Linked DNA regions of Homo sapiens. The protein of the gene in region 2 interacts with the protein of the main gene of each other region in a pairwise test. Each region holds a gene or a part of one and is shown on either strand. Other genes may lie near its edges.

Evidence for each region. Proteins that work in one complex are often made in the same cells at the same time.
Region 1: the proteins of ADD3 (region 2) and SIM2 interact in a two-hybrid assay, tested with the Homo sapiens proteins (one large-scale study listed by BioGRID and IntAct).

The regions. Positions count from the first base shown.
Region 1 is NC_000021.9:36,740,615-36,744,114, forward strand, and holds part of SIM2 (single-minded homolog 2 long isoform), read left to right. Parts: intron 1-1,102; coding exon 1,103-1,250; intron 1,251-2,772; coding exon 2,773-2,941; intron 2,942-3,500. UniProt on the Homo sapiens protein: Transcription factor that may be a master gene of CNS development in cooperation with Arnt. It may have pleiotropic effects in the tissues expressed during development.
Region 2 is NC_000010.11:110,125,803-110,131,070, forward strand, and holds part of ADD3 (gamma-adducin), read left to right. Parts: intron 1-23; coding exon 24-143; intron 144-614; coding exon 615-701; intron 702-4,560; coding exon 4,561-4,684; intron 4,685-5,268. UniProt on the Homo sapiens protein: Membrane-cytoskeleton-associated protein that promotes the assembly of the spectrin-actin network. Plays a role in actin filament capping. Binds to calmodulin.

The sequences.
Region 1 (3,500 bases), on a different chromosome or scaffold from region 2:
ACAGACAGCCCAGGAGTGTTTGGGCAGAGACTGGGGGCTTTGCCCAGCGGTATGACAGGAAGGCTGAATTTTTGTTGCATATGAGCCTCAAAGGCTGAATTTTTGTTGGAAATGCACCTTGGGGAGTTTCCTTCAGCCCCAGCTGGTACAGTCACAGACTCAGCCCCTTTGGCCACCTCCCCAGATCTCTGCTCAGGCAGCTGCTAGTTAGGTCCAGGGGCCAGTCCTGCCTTGAGAAGCAGGAATGTTCTGGAGCTGAGGACCCAGACATCCAAGGGTGTCTTTCTAGACTTGTGCTATCCTCCTCTTCCCTGGAGAAGCTTCACCTCTCCACTGCCCACCTGCGGGTTCTGGCACTTTCCTCCCCCACCTGCCTCCTGGAAGGCGGTGAGGTGGAATTGTGGTTTATGGGTGCACCGAGCCTTTGGCTGAGCTGCTTAGCGGCCTGGAGTTTGCACCCAAGCATAGAAGACAGGCCCATAGGCCCAATTTTCAGGAACTCTGCAGCCAAGTAGAGGTCTTTCCTACATAAACAACATAGCAAATTAATGGGCCCAAGGAAAACTGGGATTAATGGGAAGAAAATATAAATGGCAACAAACAGTTTCACTGTGAATACCCTCATGTTCCTGAACAGCAAACATCAGCAACAGCTTGACACTTGGTTGAATGCACTTAACTGACTACTTTGTGTAAATAACTACATCACTCACCCCCCCTCCCCATTAAGGATTTGGGGATTAAAACATAATTGTGGCATTTTGAAAACTAAAAAGCAGATTGAATTTTTTCATTCTGCCAGATACAAACTTTGGTGGCTAATGTTTCCCTCAATGAAAGCAATGACTGTTAAATAAGAGTTCTTAATGGGTGGGAACTCCTTGAAGCTGAAGGCAAAATTCCTGTGTGCACATGTATATGCACGCGTGTGTGTGTGTGCACGCACGAGACGCACACAGACATGCACCCTCCAGCGGAGAAAGCCCGCCCCCTTTGTCAAGTTCTCAGAGGTGTCCTTGGGACAGAGGTCACCGTTGGGGGCAGCATCCCAGAGGTGGGGCCTGCGAAGCGTCTGAGGACTCCTGTCACCTTGTGCTTGCAGTGTTGGTGAAGGGCCAGGTCACCACCAAGTACTACCGGCTGCTGTCCAAGCGGGGCGGCTGGGTGTGGGTGCAGAGCTACGCCACCGTGGTGCACAACAGCCGCTCGTCCCGGCCCCACTGCATCGTGAGTGTCAATTATGTACTCACGTAAGTCACACGTATTTGTTTCTCTCCTTGCTCTTTTCTCTTCCCTGTCCCACATCGGATGGCTCCAATAAGCACCATCTCTCTTTCTCTCTTTCTCAAACTGTTCATTTGTCTTCTGTTTTTTTTCTTTTTTTTAATTTTTTTTTTTTAGGAATCTGGTCATTTTGGAAGGTGCAAACTATTTCTATGCTCAGCGGTGAAAGCCAAGTGCTAGGCTGCAGGGGGAGCCAGGAGGAGGGGGCCTGCCCTGGGCATAGCTTCGGATCCCATCACAGAACCTAGTGAGGAGCATGGGGGCGGATGGTGATGCCCCCCATCCTGAATAGGGTGCAAAGAGGGTGCACACCCCCCATCAAGAATATAAACTTGTGCTATCCATGCCTATAAGCCTTTAGGTCATCTTAGATGCTCCTGCTGTTTGAGACAGGAAATATCCCATTTTTTACCTGTCTTCTTATAGAGCCTGTTACAAATTAATCATGGTGAATATTTGGTCCTTTAAACACTCCAGAAGGTCAAGTTCAGTCGCAAATGCCTTTTTTTTTTTGTAAATTAAAAAAAAATATGTTTTTGTAGAGACGGGGTTTTGCTATGTTGCCCAGGAGCTGGTCTCGAACTCCTGGCTTCAAGTGATCCTCCCACCTCGGCCTCCCAAAGTGCTGGAATTACAGGCATGAGCCACGGTGCCCAGCCTGCAAATACTTTTAAGGCCATTAGAAGCAATAGGACAGATGTCTATCTGGGGCCATATATTACTTTCCACCCACCATAGCTATTGTACGTTCAATCACCTTGCTCCAGGCTGTGACCCTTGCCATGCCGCCAGCCCCATGATGAAAAGAGTTCTCGTTTGCACTTTACATGGGGTGAGGATTTAGGCTCTAGGTTTGTTCATAGAATGACTGTGTCTTAGAAGTCAAGTGATTCTGACAAAACTGTCAGGGAGAAAACAGTTTAGCCCTTTAGTTATTCTTCCTGAGCAAATGTGTGGGCTGGTTCTCCAGGTCGACCTCTCCTTGTGTGAACATGACCCTGCTGAGTTGGTTCTTTAGGGCAGAGATGGGCCCCCGATGTGAGAATGCACAAAGCTGGTGGTCAGGCTCCCAGACCTGTGAAGAGTCCCGGACTCTTGCCTCCTGGGGTGCTAACTGGAGAGGCAGCTGGGCCACAGGTGTGCATGTTGGATGCAGGTGGACCTGATCAATGGTATTTCTGCCTGTCTCTTTTTCCCTTGGTGGCTTTCCTCATGGCCCACGACCTCCCCGAGCAATGTGTTTGGGGTTTTATTGGACTGGAGAGAGCTCTGACCTGGCTCAGCATTTCCTGGGGTGGCCCAGCCTGGGGCTGCAGATGGCTTTTATAATGAGGGTGAGCTGGCCTTGTCTCAAATCCCATCCACATCCAATCCCAGTGAAAAGACACACTGGAGCACTGAGAACGCCCTGCCCAAGGGCTGGGGCCAGGGAAGCTGCTCGGCCTCCAGCGCCTGCTGGACATGACTCGGCCCACTCTCGCCTTCCAGGGAGATTGAATACAAGGAACTTCAGCTGTCCCTGGAGCAGGTGTCCACTGCCAAGTCCCAGGACTCCTGGAGGACCGCCTTGTCTACCTCACAAGAAACTAGGAAATTAGTGAAACCCAAAAATACCAAGATGAAGACAAAGCTGAGAACAAACCCTTACCCCCCACAGGTAACACGCATGTCCTGCAGTTTTGGGGTGCTGACATCTATCCTAGGGGTTCGGGACACCTGGACACATTAAGGAATGGGGAGCCTCTCATTGCACAGCAGGGATCTCCCTGCCGTGGAGCAAGGTCCCTCTGGGATGTCTTGCCTACACAGTAGTGACAGCCCGGGGAAGGCCGACATCCCGGTGGGCTAGTCAAGTTTAGGAAACAGAAGACTAAATTGGAAAGGCACTTCAGCCCACTAGAATCCATGGGTTAGATTCTAATGGGCTTGACGGGTTGGAATCCACGGGTTAGATTCTAGACTGGTGGGTTAGAATACCAGTCCATTGTATTTCTGCAGCATTTTAAAAATGAAAGCCCTCCCTCTTTTTAAAAAAGTAGTTTGTGAGCTCTCAGAAATAGCAATTGTCGGTTGGGCGTGGTGGCCCATGCCTGTAATACCAGCACTTTGGGAGGCCGAGGCAGGTGGATCACCTGAGGTCAGGAGTTTGAGTCCAGCCTGGCCAACATGGTGATACTCCATCTCTATTAAAAATACAAAACTTCGCGCCTGTAGTC
Region 2 (5,268 bases):
TTAGAAAATTTTTGATTCTTTAGTGGATGAAAGCAGAAGACTCATCTAAAGTTAGTGGTGGAACACCTATCAAAATTGAAGATCCAAATCAGTTTGTTCCTTTAAACACAAACCCGAATGAGGTACTAGAAAAGAGAAATAAGGTAAGACATGGTCTTCTATAGCCAGGGGAGACATTTTAATTGCTTTATGTTTAAATCACCAGTGGTTGAATCTGGTTAATGCCAAACTTAGAAGTTTGAATACAGAAGAATTTGGAATTTAATTCAGTATAATTTTAGCTTATATTGAATGCCTCCAGCTCTGTGCTAGTAATTGGTGAACAGGCTACATGGGGAAGATGTATTGAACATTTTTCTGCGTTAGAGAACCCTGCTATTAGGGGGAAAATGCAGTTCTCTAACAACCTAAGACGAAAGGAAATAACTTGCCATAAAGAGCAGAGGAGACTAATATGAGTTGTTAGGATGGTAAAAGAGGTCTTTATGGAGGTGGGAATTGAAGAGACTCTCACTCTGGAAATGTCAAGTAGTAAGCTTTTATGAAAAGATAAAGCAAAGGTCATCTGCATAGTTGCCCTCAAGAACTTTATATTGAATTGTTTTTCAATTCAGATTCGGGAACAAAATCGATATGACTTGAAAACAGCAGGACCACAATCTCAGTTGCTTGCTGGAATTGTTGTGGATAAGCCACCTTCTGTAAGTTTATGAAGTAGTATGATCTTTGTTTTTTATTTACCACATTAATTTCATTGATTTTTAAATATGAATATTTATTTTTACTAAGGTTAATATAAGCACAAGTTAAAAAGTCAACTCACAAGATTTAAAATGTCACCCACAATTCCCAGTTTCCAGGTGCAGCAACTTTCTGTTCTTTTCATTGCTTCTAATGTTTACTTTGGTGTTTCTGGTTAGTTAGTTGAGATGAGGTCTCACTCTGTTGCCCAGGATAGTCGTGAACACCTGATCTCAGGTGATCCTCCAGCCTTGACCTCCTGAAGTATTGGGATTACAGGTATAAACCACTGCTCCTCGTCCTCCTTTGATGTTTCTAAAGAGCATCTTCTGCTTTTTCTTGGTCTATCAGTTTTAGACCTTGACTATTTTTCATCAAATCTGTGTTATCCGTTATAAGAAGTACCATTGTTTTATATGTCACTAAAAGAGAAAAAACACTGCCAATTATAATTGTTCCCAATTTCAGAGATGGAAAAAGTTCATCTTAGAATTAATGAAATATTTTTGAAAGATGGGGATTTAGCCTGTTTATACAGTGCTTCCCTTTTTCCCTCTCCCCATTCTCCCAGTAAGGATACATCACAGTTTTTGTTTTTTGTTTTTTGTTTTTTTCTGTTAGATCAGCTTTCGTTATTTATATTACTACATGTTTGCTGCTAAGCCAGGTAGTATTTCCTTTCTTACATAAGTCACCCCTCCCTACTCTCACCTTGCCTTTTTTTCATTGGCTTATTATTTGGGGTACATTGGCTTAGTTCTTCCCGAACTTTTTAAAAGAATTATAAAGTCCCGGCTGGGTGCAGTGGCTCACGCCTGTAATCCCAGCACTTTGGGAGGCCGAGGCGGGCAGATCACGAGGTCAAGAGATCAAGACCATCCTGGCCAACATGGTGAAACCCCATCTCTACTGAAAATACAAAAATTAGCTGTGCGTGGTGGCGTGCACCTGTAGTCCCAGCTACTCAGGAGGCTGAGGCAGGAGAATCACTCGAACCCGGGAGGCAGAGGTTGCAGTGAGCCAAGATCATGCCACTGTACTCCAGCCTGGTGACAGAGCGAGACTCCGTCTCAAAAAATAAGAATAACATAAAATCTGTCCTAATATTATTTTCCACAGGGTGAAAGTCAACAGGTAATCTCTCTGTTCCAGCCCCCCTTCATTCTGATCCAAATCTAAATTGGTTGCTCTCAGGCCAGCTGCACAGGTTCATCTGGAGGATTCCTGTGCTGCTGATCTATATTGTATTCCGTTTCCTGTATCTTGTGTCTTCTGCTTTCTTGATTTCCTCCTTTACTGTAGAACGCACCCTCTAATAGCTTTCCGAGAAAAGGATACATAGGTGGTAACAGTCTGAAATGCCTTTATTCTATCTTCAAATGTGCATATAATGGATATAGAATAGTTTAGAAATAATTTTCCCCTGAAATAAGAAAAGCATCATTCTGTTCCCTATTTTATTGTTGAAGTAGGAAGGCATTGGAATTCCTGAACCTTTGTTTAGGATTTTTTTTTTTTTTTTTTTTTTGCTTTTAGACCCTTTCTGCATCCCTGCTGTTCTGAAATTTTATGATTGTGTGCTGATCTCTTTTTAGTCTTTTTTCTAAGTAATTAGTAACCCTTTTCAATCTCCAGAGTCATATCCTTCAGTTCTGGAAGTTTTTTAAAAGTGTTTCTTCAAGAGTGTTTTCTTCCCATTTCTTTTTCTGTCAGTATATTATGTTAGTTTGGATGTTGGGCCTCTTTGAGCCTCTGATTTTTTTCTTTTCTCTCCTACTTGCCATCTCTTTATCTTTGTATCCTACTTTCTGGGAGAATGTTTTCTAACCCTTTTAATTTTTTATTTTGATGTTAACTTTTTTAATTTATTTTATTTTATTTATTTTTTTTGAGATGGAGTCTCGCACTGTTGCCCAGGCTAGAGTGCAGTGGCGCGATCTTGGCTCACTGCAAGCTCCGCCTTCCTGGGTGCACGCCATTCTCTGCCTCAGCCTCCCAAGTAGCTGGGACTACAGGCGCCTGTCACCGTGCCCGACTAATTTTTTTTGTATTTTTAGTAGAGACAGGGTTTCACCGCGTTAGCCAGGATGGTTTCAATCTCCTGACCTCGTGATCTGCCCGCCTTGGCCTCCCAAAGTGCTGGGATTACAGGCGTGAGCCACCACGCCCAGCCAACTTTTTTATTTTTAATAAGAGTTCTTATTCCCTGAATGTTCCTTTTTAATAACATCCTGATCTTTACACTTTCTCTTATTGCTCTAAGGGTATCAATTTTAAATTTTCTTCATTTGCCTTTGTTGTCTTTGTCTATTCTGAGTTGTTCCGTATGTCTGTTTATATGGAAGAATGAGACATTAAAGCATATCAGAAGCTCTGGGTATACACAGAGCTCGGGGATTGGTGGGCTTCACTGTAGGGTGATTGGATGTGGACCAGGTTGTTTCTCTGGGGAATCCCCAAACATTATTCTCTGTAATTCTTTTATCTGGGACTATTTAGTTTATCTGGAAAAGAACTCCAGTCTCCTGCCAGTTTCCAACCATCATTCTAGGAGCCTGCAACTGTATTTTGTGTCCCCTAGTTAGTTTTTCTTTCTTTCTTTCTTTCTTTTTTTTTTTTTTTTGAGACGGAGTTTTGTTCTTGTTGCCCAGGCTGGAGCGCAATGGCGTGACCTCAGCTCACGGCAACCTCCGCCTCCCGGGTTCAAGCCATTCTCCTGCCTCAGCCTCCTGAGTAGCTGGGATTACAGGCATGCACCACCATGCCCGGCTAATTTTGTATTTTTAGTAGAGGCAGGGTTTCTCCATGTTGGTCAGGCTAGTCTCGAACTCTGGACCTCAGGTGATCTGCTCGCCTTGGCCTTCCAAAGTGCTGGGATTACAGGTGTGAGCCACCGCGCCCAGCCTAGTTTTTCTTTCTCAAGCCTCTGATCTTCTGCAGAGATGAGAGAGAGGGAAATGCTTGGCTCTGTGGAATAGGGAAGGGAACCTGGGAATCTGTTTCCTATTCAGACTTTGAACATGTTCCTCTATTTTCACCTTTTCCTTACCACCACCTTCTATGGTACCTATTGCCTCTAGTTTATGGGCCTTACCAGACCTCTTCAGGGCAAATAAGCATGCTTCTCATTTGCATCCTTTTTTTCAGGACTGAGGCTTCAACTTTCTCAGCTCTGCTACCTGCTGTTCCACTTGCATTCCAGCTTCCAAAAATATGTTAACATTTCTCATCCTTTGTTGTTTCATCTCACATTCTTTTGTCCTTAAGGGTGTTTTGTTTTGTTTTTTTCTATTCCTTTACTATCATTTTAGTGGGGTTTTGGGAGGGATGAAAAATAAATACATGGGTTCCATATGCCAACTGCAACTGAAATTCTCATTATTTCCTTTCCTGGAGAAAACAGCTACAAGCTTATTTTCGTAACAGATTTAAAGAACTACTTTTGGTACAGTTTCATTTCTGTAAGCCTTTTTTACAGTGGTCTTTAAAATGGAGCAATTCTTGTTTTTTTCAAGTTTTTTTTATGTGAAACTTATTAGAACTTGGCATAATGGTTTTTAAAAATTATTAAGATTTACTTATACAGGCTTATTGAGGAAATATCACTGGCAATTTTAGTCCATTGGATTAGTAGTTTAAGGGCATCAATCTTACAAGAGCATTTTAAACAAAGCATGTTACCTTGCATTTCTTAGGATTGTTGTGAAATAAGGCTTCACAAACATCATATTTGCATTTATGTGTATATAGATGGATGGATGGATAGATATATAAGTAAAACTCTTGGTAATGAATCGATTTTTATTTTTTCTTTGTAAGACTATGCAATTTGAAGATGATGATCATGGCCCACCAGCTCCTCCTAACCCATTTAGTCATCTCACAGAAGGAGAACTTGAAGAGTATAAGAGGACAATCGAACGTAAACAACAAGGCCTAGAAGGTTAGTTAATCTTTACATTCAACCTAGGGTAAGCCACACTGATAACAATAAAGTACCTCACGTTGGATGATAGAAAGCAGTCAGTGTGGCCGGGCACAATGGCTCACACCTGTAATCCCAGCACTTTGGGAGACCAAGGCAGGTGGATTGCTTGAGGTCAGGAGTTTGAGACCAGCCTGGCCAACATGGTGAAACCCCGTCTCTATTAAAAATTAAAAAATTAGCCGGGCATGGTGGTACACGCCTGTAGTCCTAGCTACTCTGGTGGCTGAGGCAGGAGAATCGCTTGAACCTGGGAGGCAGAGGTTGCAGTGAGCTGAGATCGCACCACTGCACTGCAGCCTGGGCGACAGAGAGAGACTCCGTCTCAAAAAAAAAAAAACAGAAAAAGAAAAAAAACAATCTGAATGCTACTATTTTATAGTAAAATCTTCTAGAAAGTGAGATTCCCAGATGAGTAAAGAATTACTAGCCAAAGTAGATGTAGATAAATTAATGGATTTAAACATTTCATAATTATGTGGCTTTTTAACTCTCTTAATTTTAAATAATTACAGATTCATAAGTATGTAGTTTTGATGCTT